Linked DNA regions of Homo sapiens. The protein of the gene in region 1 purifies or fractionates together with the protein of each later gene. This does not show direct contact. Each region holds a gene or a part of one and is shown in the gene's direction. Other genes may lie near its edges.

The links.
Region 2: the proteins of NMD3 (region 1) and FAM83D purify together in Homo sapiens (affinity purification with mass spectrometry; 2 studies listed by BioGRID and IntAct, with this or other methods). This does not show direct contact.

The regions. Positions count from the first base shown.
Region 1 is NC_000003.12:161,245,004-161,252,310, forward strand, and holds the end of NMD3 (60S ribosomal export protein NMD3), read left to right. Parts: intron 1-1,332; coding exon 1,333-1,445; intron 1,446-2,254; coding exon 2,255-2,327; intron 2,328-4,450; coding exon 4,451-4,557; intron 4,558-5,252; coding exon 5,253-5,323; intron 5,324-5,776; coding exon 5,777-5,907; 3' UTR 5,908-7,304; downstream 7,305-7,307. UniProt on the Homo sapiens protein: Acts as an adapter for the XPO1/CRM1-mediated export of the 60S ribosomal subunit.
Region 2 is NC_000020.11:38,950,416-38,953,912, forward strand, and holds the end of FAM83D (protein FAM83D), read left to right. Parts: intron 1-1,123; coding exon 1,124-2,105; 3' UTR 2,106-2,691; downstream 2,692-3,497.

The DNA.
Region 1 (7,307 bases):
CTGGTGCAACACAGCATTCAGGTGTTCCAGAATCACATGTATAGTTTATAACCCATATCTGAAATCAAATGTTTCTTCAAAGATGAAAGTCTGGCTTCTTTTACTGTGAAATAGTATCTAGAGACTCCCAGGGTACCCTTGTGTGTGTGTGTGTGTGTGCGTGCTAATAATGCTTCTTGAGACAAAAATAACTTGTGATAATTTGGGAAAAATTAATGGAAATGGAAGACAGATGACATTCTACATTTTATTTATAAATTAAGGTAATGTACTTAGGGCAAACTTTTCATTTATAATAAATGTAGAGTATCATTTCCCTTCAGGCAGATATAAAACCAGATACTGTATTTTCTTGGTTTTTAAAAAATAGCTAGAAGAGGTTAATAAATTTCTTACAAGCAGAAGTCTAATAGCTAGAAAGTAAATCCTGTTAAATAAAATGTAGTCTCCCTGTTAATTGACTTTTCTTTTGCAGTTCTTAAGTTTGAGACTTGTCTTTTATTTCAGTTTCTCCTTCTGCTCTATTTCTTTTCATTTTTTTCATTTCTTTTTCTTTGACCAACTGCAATAAGAAACACTTGATTCTTTTCATAACTTTATTTTGAGATTCCTTAATTTTATTTATAACTCTTAGTATTTTTCTCTCGATCTCACTTCAGTTGGTCTGTCTTTGTTGTTAAAGGTGTTGGCATGTTAGAAAGGGAATTAATAGTTTTCTAGTTTAAAAATTGGGATGTTGTTTCTGCTATATATATATTATATATAGCAGATGTACTATATTATATATAGCAGATGTAGAGAATGATTGTAGTCTACACTAGTAGATACTTTAAAAATTAATTTGATAAAGATTTGGCCTCTCTAGTGGTTTACTACCAGGATTTCTAGGCTGTTTTGTCTGGACCCTGATTTTCTGAACCCTTGTGTCAAGCAAGAGTTTGCTTGGAATACGTTCTTGCTTTAAGATTCCCCTACCTTTTCAGTTATTTTGTTCACTCTGCCTATGTTGGCCCATCTTCCTGTGAAAACATTTCTTTTGAAAATTCTACATATATATATTTTTAGGGACATTATTAATGTTTTATAAAAGTCTTGAATAAAATCTTAGAAAAAGTCAATGATTTATTTTTATGAATTGTTTGTGAGTCTTTCTATACTCATGATTCAGTAATTTGTTAATTTTGACAGTGTTTCATACATCAGAAAAATACAAAAAATTTTCTGTCTTTAAAAATTAGAAAACCAAAAATCAATATTGTATTTAACTTTTCTCTGAGATGCTTTTAGAGTTATGTTTAGATTATTGAAGAGTACATTTTCTTTCCTCTTAAGCATACCCTCGGGGAAGTCTGGGTACAGAAGACATCTGAAATGAATACAGATAAACAGTATTTTTGTCGTACTCATTTGGGACATCTTCTAAATCCCGGAGACCTGGTGTTAGGGTTTGTATTATTTCATATTTTAAACTGCCAATTAGGATTGCAAATTTTCTTTGGGAACCAGCAAAACTACCTAAAAATACTAACATTGTTTATTCTAAAAAGATCGAAGGGTTCTTAGGAGCCTTATAACTCATTTTATTGTTGATAACTAAATTAAACTGGGTTGGACAGAAGCCCATAGTTACTCCATTTTGGTTATAATCTTAAAGAGTAATTTGTTGTAAGATTTTGTTAATTGAGCCTTGAAGTTATATGGTTGTATCCATATTTAGAACTGCTTTTGCAGATTGGGTCTTTTTTATTGTGCAGTTGCTACTGCTCAGATAACTCACTTTTAAGATATGACAACTATATATATACAAAGGGCTTGTAAAGGCATAGATCAGTTCTTTCTGAATCAGAGTTTTTCAGTGAGTGTGTGATTAAACCCTCAAATATTGCTTTTGCTTTTAGGATTTCAGTTTCTTTTACTACAGAATGAGGTGTTTTTTTTTTGTTTGTTTGTTTAAAATAAACTAGAAGGAAGCAACTAATTGAATTCTAAAGTTGGACTGATATGTAAGTCTGTTTTGCTTTTACAAATGTATGGCAAGGTGGACAATAATTGATTATAAGTGAAACTCAGAGTTCCTTATTGTCTTTACCAGCATCTACAGAAGCATGTTCATTGTGTAATAAATGACAGAACTTTTAAAGTGAGAAGCATATTAAATGTTTGATTTTTAGGAAGTTTTAGGTGATAGCCATAAAATAAAAAGTTACACACAAAGGGTAAATGGTCACTAAGTTTTTCATTGTTTACATTTCAGGTTTGATTTGGCCAACTGTAACTTAAATGATGAGCATGTCAACAAAATGAACTCAGATAGAGTTCCAGATGTGGTAAGGCTTTAGATTTTTCCCTTTTTTCCTGTGTTAAAGAGGATGAATGTAACTCTTAGGGGTAAGAGGTAGGAGTTCACACTTTTGAAAATAACAAATCAATTTAGAGATTTCTGAAACTGCAGATAAGGTATAATAGCAAAATTTTTTTTTTTTTTTTTTAAAGAAACAGGAGGCTGGGTGCAGTGGCTCAAGCCTGTAATCCCAGCACTTTGGGAGGCCTAGGCAGGTGGATCACCTGAGGTTGGGAGTTCGAGACCAGCCTGACCAACATGGAGAAACCCTGTCTCTATTAAAAATACAAAAAAATTAGCCAGGCGTGGTAGTGCAAGCTTGTAATCCCAGCTACTTGGGAGGCTGAGGTAGGAGAATTGCCTGAACCGAGGAGGTGGAGGTTGTGGTAAGCTGAGATTGCGCCGTTGCACTCCAGGCTGGGCAACAAGAACAAAACTCAGTCTCAAAAAAAAAAAAAAGAAATGGGAGTCTTGCTTTATTGACCAGGCTTGCGTGCAGTGTCATGATCACTCACTGCAGCTCAAAATTCTGAGCTCAAGTAATCCTCCCACCTCAGCCTCCTGAGTAGCTGAGACTACAGGCACATGCCACCACTCCCAGCTAATGTTTAAAACACGTTTTGTAGAGACGGGGTCTTGTTATGTTGCTCAGGCTGGTCTCGAACTCCTGGCTTCAAGTGATCCTCCCACCTCAGCCTCTCAAGTAGCTGGGATTACAGGTGTCACCTATCATGCCTGGCTTCATTTTAAATAATTTTTCTTGGTGGGGTAAATCCAAGATTTATTGTGATTGTTCCTTTTCTAATCACATTTTCATTCTCGATCAAAATACCTGATATTATCTGTAGAGCAAAAATAAATTTAGCCGGGTGCGGTGGCTCATGCCTGTAATCCTAGCACTCTGGGAGGCTGAGGTGGGTGGATTGCTTGAGCTTAGGAGTTCGAGACCAGCCTGGAAAACACAGTGAAACCCCATCTTTACTAAAATACAAAAAATTAGCCAGGCGTGGTGGCATGCACCTGTAGTCCCAGCTACTTAGGAGGCTGAGGCAGGAGAATTGCTTGAACCTGGGAAGTGGAGGTTGCAGTGAGCCAAGATCATGCCACTGCATTCCAGCCTGGGTGATAGAGCAAGATTCCGTCTCCAAAAGATAAATAAATAAATTTGCAGCTAAAAATGATGACATTTAGCATTTTTTCAGGTTCATTTTTATTAGGCTCACTTCGTTTCACATACATTGTTCAGTTAAGAAGGCATTTAGAGTTAAGGCTGTTATTCAAAGCTGAATAAAATATCCGTGAAAAATAATCTTCACAGTATCAAGCCTTGGAAAAAAACTATTAATTCTGAAAAATCTGTTAAGTTCTAACATGATGAGGTTAAGAATCATGAGAAACTGAATGAAATTAGTGTGAAAGACCCTGTCTTCTATACTTGCTTAATCTTTTAGAATAAACATTGATTTCTTTAGCAGTGAGCAAAAAAAGTAGAGCCATGACAAATCAAGGACTCCGACCACCTGCCCAGTTGTACTTTTATTAGTTGATAAATTAGGAATTAACAGCGTGGTTGGAGTGTAAGTCTAAATAGGTATTTCTAACAAGGTCATAAGAGGAGATCATGGCAATCTTACAATATTTTGTATTTTGTAAAATTATTTTCATTCTATAATTTATTAAACAAGCGTTCTAAGATACATTGTTGTGAAAGTTATATATAGTTCTGTAAATGCTTATTGGTGGGTATAAGAGAAAAAAAGTATCTACTTGTGATATTCAGAATGATTTATATGAATGGTAGCTGAAAACTGAAGTTTGAGTTAAAAGAAAACTACAGTTTTTGTTATTAAGAAAAACAGTATTCAGTCACTGAAAAATTTTAGCAAATTTTAACAATTGTACAAATAATGCTTGAATCCATTCTCATAAAAAGTTAAATACATGGAGAAAAATTTTAAAAGTCCTCTTGACACTGTCTCTCCATCCCTTCTCCTTTCTCCTGAGGTGTAACCAGTGTCATTAGTTTGGTCATTTTTTAGCTTTATTGAATTTTGTGGCCTCACTGTATAGTTCCCATTCTTTGTAACTTTACAAATATTTATCTTGCAGGTATTAATCAAGAAGAGCTATGACCGGACCAAACGTCAGCGTCGTAGAAACTGGAAATTGAAAGAGCTTGCAAGAGAGAGAGAAAACATGGATACAGATGATGAAAGGTCTCGCTTTTCTTTAAATCTCTTATGTTGTCTCAAAGGAAATATTTATGATAAATACTTTTTATGTTGTAAAGAAATAGGCATCACACAATTGATCCTTGCACTCAATTATAATCTTGGATTCTTATCAAGGTATTAATGGAATCAGTATAAGATGATGTAAAGACATTTAACACAGATTTAGTAATTATTTCCTGGTTTATGACCTAATAATTGTAGTGTTAATGTAAACAATTCATTTGAAAAGTTAAAATATAATCATACTTTGCTTAACAATGGGCATACCTTCTGAGAAATGCATCATTAGGTGATTTTGTTGTGTGAGCATCATAGAATATGTGGCACATGACTTTATAATAAATAATTACATTATGAATATCACAAATAGCAGATGAGTACTTATGGCTTGAGATAAAAAGGAAACAGCTCATTGATGCCAAGTGTGTTATTCCTCAAATAATTTAAGCAGAAATGAAGACAGTGTTCTAAAACAGTTTATTGGATGATTCAAAAAGTGGCTTTAATGATGGTGAAGACACCGATGTCTAAAAAAACTGAGAGTTTATATAAAATTGTTTCATGAAATGTGAGTTGGAAACAGCAGTATGTCTACATAGTCCTTAAAATGAAAGTCCTTAAATGAAGAAAATATAACTATATTTTTGGTGATGAAATATTTAAATGTTTATTTAAAGGCAATACCAAGATTTTCTTGAAGATCTTGAAGAAGATGAGGCAATTCGAAAAAATGTCAACATTTACAGAGGTTGGTGTTCTAGGAGTGTTTAAGTCATTTGTTCTGTATATAAGTATAGTTCCTAGTATGAATATTTTGGTATCTTAAGCTTTGATTCTCATAAATGTCTTTAATTGTTTTTTCAACTACTCTAGTCACACTTCTACAAAAAAACTTGCAAAACAATAAATAAAACTTAACAAAATACTGTTTTGTATATTACAGTTAGTATTATTTGCATTCTAGCTTGATCCCTTAAGTTGCTCACTCCTATAGTGGTGGAAGTATATTCTTACAGTTACTCAGTTCATTTGTTCAGTGAATGTAATTTGAATGACTGCTGTAAGAGACAAGAGCTTCTGATACAATGTAGTTACATAATAATAATGATAAGGTAGATATTTGTATATTTTCAAATATATTTAATACTTTGTATACATATAAATACTTTGTATTTATTTTATTCTCTTTGTATTTTTTTAGATTCAGCCATCCCTGTGGAAAGTGACACCGATGATGAAGGAGCACCTCGAATTAGTCTGGCTGAGATGCTTGAAGACCTTCATATTTCCCAAGATGCCACTGGTGAAGAAGGTGCATCAATGCTGACATAATGAGATGTTGTAGACTGTTTCCATACATGGGCTTAAGAAGTTGGACAGAGTTACCTTAAGTGTCTCTACTATCTTTGCCTCCAGATTTCAAGAGGAGAAATTTAGTTTTAAACCTGAATAAACATGTTTGTTTTCAGTGCTCACTCAAACCACTAAAACAGATGGATAGCTTTGAGGTTTTAGATAAGGAAAGATTATGGAGAATGTAGTTGTTATTGATTTTTGGCAATTTTACATTTGGAATTTTATCACTGTGCTTTTTTATATGAGGCACTGTAGTATTTTCACATAGTATAGTACTCTGGATGTAAAAGCTCAAAAATTGTGATTCCTTGAACGTTCACTAAATCTTCAAGCAAAAACACATTTTTACATTATTTTTACGTTGATTATTTTAGTGAAAGACCATATGAAGAAGCATTTTTAATATTAACTTGTTACATACTTTGATCCACTTTACATCATTTTTATGTTGTTGAGGTAGGGAAATTAGGGTTCAGTTTATCACTGGACATTCAGGAGGCAAGTCAATCTTTTTTATTTCCTTATAAAATTAACTCTTCAAAAGCCGTTAAACAGAGAGTTATCTTAATTTTTATTGCAGTAGGAGGAAATATATTTAAAATATTTGTAGATTTATAGCAAATAGAGACTCGTTATTTAAAGGTTAAATAACAATTTGTTCTTTTGTTGTTTTTGCCAGTTTAGGGCAGTAGCTGCTTTTGTCATAAATATCTTCCTACCACATCAAAAATGCTGCTTTTAAAATTTTTGTTTATAAATTGAGAAGGAATTTTCTCTCTATAAGTTTCTGTCATTGAACAGATCACCATTAAAAAGAATATTAGAATCCAGCATGAAGATAATGGCTAATAAAAATGAGGTACATACTTTATAAAACCATTAATCAGATTTGAATGAGGAATGCTTCCCACATCCTTGAAAGAAAAACTGTGGCTTACGTTTTGAAGTATTCTGAGAATGAAGTATTAAGATCCAATTTCTATAAGCAAGATCAGACTTGTTAAGTATGCCGCAAGTAAGAGCTAATTCATTCATTCCATGTGTGCCACTAAATAAAGAGATTGAGCAAGTGCCACTGTGTGGAACATTTTTCTTTTTTTTAATATTGGACTTTCCAATTTTGAAATTATGGATAAAGTCCTAAATTTTCTATAGTGGCTTCTTTTCTGTCTGCATATTTTGTTAAAATTGTGGATCTAAAAGCCATATCCTGTCTTTGGTGGTGGCCTGGTAGGAATGGCTTGTCCTAGTTCTTCAAAGGTAAGATTGACCAAAGCAAGTTCTCATTGGTGGTCTGTGTTTACATCTTCCGTGTCAAGATATTTTAAAGCATGAAAATAAAGCCATTCTTGCCCTTTTTCGTGTGTTTGAAATGG
Region 2 (3,497 bases), on another chromosome or scaffold:
GGAGGGAGGCGGGGAAGGGACACCGTACAGGCAAGGGCACATGGCCACTAATCAGCTCTAAAATGTTTTGAGCCATGGTGTTTTGTGAAAATGGCAGCACAGCCCCATGACTGTGGGTCCTCCACTGTTAGTGAGGAAGACTACTTCAGCAGCCACAAGGACAAGCTTGAGGGCAGGAAGGCCACTGATGTTGCCACTCAAACAGTAGCAAGGAGCAGGGCATTAGCAATTCATAGGGCCTAGGGTCTGATCTGGAGTCCAGCAGTAGCTCCCCTCTGTGATAATCCCTTTATCTGGTTTCCTTACCTTTAAGATGGGGGTGCTGGCCTAAATAGTTTTCTTACCTTTAAAATGGGGATGCTGGCCTAAATATTTAGAAGCCCTATTTTTTATTTTTAATTAATTTTTTGAGATGGAGTCTCGCCCAGTCATGGAATCTCGCCCAGTCATGGAATGTGCAGTGGTGTGACCTCAGCTTACCGCAACCTCTGCCTCCGGGGTTCAAACAATCCTCCCACCTCAGCCTCCCGAGTAGCTAGGATTACAGTCATGCACCACCACGCCTGGCTAATTTTTTATGTGTTTTTACTGGAGACAGGGTTTCACCATGTTGGCCAGGTTGGTCTTGAACTCCTGACCTCAAAGGATCTGCCCACTTCATCCTCTCAAAGTGCTGGGATTACAGTCATGAGCCACCGCGCCTGGCCCCCTTTCCAGTTTTTAAAAACTCTGAGGCAAGGACCAGGTGAGGTGGCTCACACCTGTAATCCTAGCACTTTGGAAGGATGAGGTGGGAGGACTGCCTGAGCCGAGGAGTTCAAGACCAGCCTGAGCAACATAGCAAGACCCCGTCTCAAAACAAACAAACAAACAAAAAAACCCTCTGAGGCTGAGCATTTAGTGTGTTTGTTAAACAGTTGGCCTTTTTACTTTTATGGTAACACACATAAATGTTATATATGTGTTAAGGCTAGTTAAATACATGCAAATGGTAGGTATGATATCACCAAATTTGTGACCCTTATGTGGTAAGATACCTGTACTATATTATTCAGATGGACAGTGAGTAAAACAAAATTGCTCATCCTTACCAGCTGCTGTTTGTTTCTTTTTAATCTTTAAGTTTTACATGGACGGATGGCAAATTAAACAGCAGTAACTTGGTAATTCTGTCTGGCCAAGTGGTTGAACACTTTGATCTGGAGTTCCGAATCCTGTATGCCCAGTCCAAGCCCATCAGCCCCAAACTCCTGTCTCACTTCCAGAGCAGCAACAAGTTTGATCACCTCACCAACCGAAAACCACAGTCCAAGGAGCTCACCCTGGGCAACCTGCTGCGGATGCGGCTGGCTAGGCTGTCAAGTACTCCCAGGAAGGCGGACCTGGACCCAGAGATGCCCGCAGAGGGCAAGGCAGAGCGCAAGCCCCATGACTGTGAGTCCTCTACTGTTAGTGAGGAAGACTACTTCAGCAGCCACAGGGACGAGCTCCAGAGCAGAAAGGCCATTGACGCTGCCACTCAAACAGAGCCAGGAGAGGAGATGCCAGGGCTGAGTGTGAGTGAGGTGGGAACACAAACCAGCATCACCACAGCATGTGCTGGTACCCAGACTGCAGTCATCACCAGGATAGCAAGCTCTCAAACCACGATTTGGTCCAGATCGACCACTACTCAGACTGACATGGATGAGAACATTCTCTTTCCTCGAGGAACTCAATCTACAGAAGGGTCACCAGTCTCAAAAATGTCTGTATCGAGATCTTCCAGTTTGAAGTCTTCCTCCTCTGTGTCTTCCCAAGGCTCTGTGGCAAGCTCCACTGGTTCTCCCGCTTCCATCAGAACCACTGACTTCCACAATCCTGGCTATCCCAAGTACCTGGGCACCCCCCACCTGGAACTGTACTTGAGTGACTCACTTAGAAACTTGAACAAAGAGCGGCAATTCCACTTCGCTGGTATCAGGTCCCGGCTCAACCACATGCTGGCTATGCTGTCAAGGAGAACACTCTTTACTGAAAACCACCTTGGCCTTCATTCTGGCAATTTCAGCAGAGTTAATTTGCTTGCTGTTAGAGATGTAGCACTTTATCCTTCCTATCAGTAACTGCTCCGTGTTCAGACTCCTGGTTTCTTCCAGGCTTACAGTGGACATCATCAGCTTCCTGCTTTAAAAAATATCTTATGTCCCTAATTGCCTTTCTTTTACCTGACTTTGTCACCTTTGTTGTCTTTGAATTCTTTAGGCTGCATATTATTTTACATGCTTTGTTTTGTCATGTATATACCAGGTATTGGTTTTATGGTTTAAACACTATGGATACAGGGGTTTGTTTTGCACAATTTTAATAGTCATGCACTACATAATGATGTTTTGGTCAATGACAGACCACGTATATGTTGGCAGTCTCATAAGATTATAATACTGTATTTTTACTATACCTTTTCTGTGTTTAGATACAAATACCATTATGTTACAGTTGCCTACAGTATTCAGTGCAGTAACATGATGTACAGGTTTGTAGCCTGTTTTGCATTTTTCTTAGGTTGTATGCTCTTCTGTTTTAAAGGTTTGAATCACCAGCATTTTTGTGATCAAAATCCTATTTAGAAAAAATAAAACTACTTTCTGTTTATCTCTTTAGAATATCTGTGTTCTTAGCATTAAATAAATATAAACTTGTGCTTCTGTACTTTTTCCCCCCCTCTGACACTTTTCTCTTTAAATCTGGGAGTATGTCACAAATTAATGCACCTAATAGATATAGGTATATAGATATCTATATCTGAAGGTTTTTTAAATAGTGTCAGGGTGAGGAAGAAGTAGATGATCCAAACTATAGAAGAGAAAATAGATCCACTTAACCTTCCTCAGCATCATGAATATTGATGTTACTCTATAGTTTAAGTGAGGAAACTGGCCAGAAATAGCAGGCCTTTGCACATGCTCTGCCTTTTCTCTTTTCGAAGAAAAAGCCTGAGCTATTTCAGTAGGTCCTTGGTACTCTGGTACTCTGCTTGTCTACCAAAGGAGGCGTTAGTGTATGTTCCTATATTCATTCCCAATATTAACTCTGGTGGCCCCATGGGCCTCATTTCATCAGCTGGGTGTATTGACAGTGATTTAGCCATCTAATATCCCAGAGTAGGGGCAAAAGAGGACACTGACAATTATCCCAGTTTCCTGGTCCAGTGGCAGGCAGTGTAATGGTTTCTACATCCTTCTAATCAGGATTGGTATGGCTGTGGAATCCTGTTTTTGTCTCATTCTCATGGACAGACAAAAGGGAAGAGAGTTAAATGATGCCTTCCTCCCTCTCCTGACTTAGCTACAGCAAAAAAGATCTATAACAGGGGAAGGTGTCTGCCACATAAAATGCTGATGCACTTGTATCATGAGTGTCCCTACACTCACGCGTGTGCCAGGACTTCCTTATGATGGTCAGGCTATTTGCTGGGTTAGTGCTGTAATCTGTGGCTATAAAGAAAAGGAAAGGAA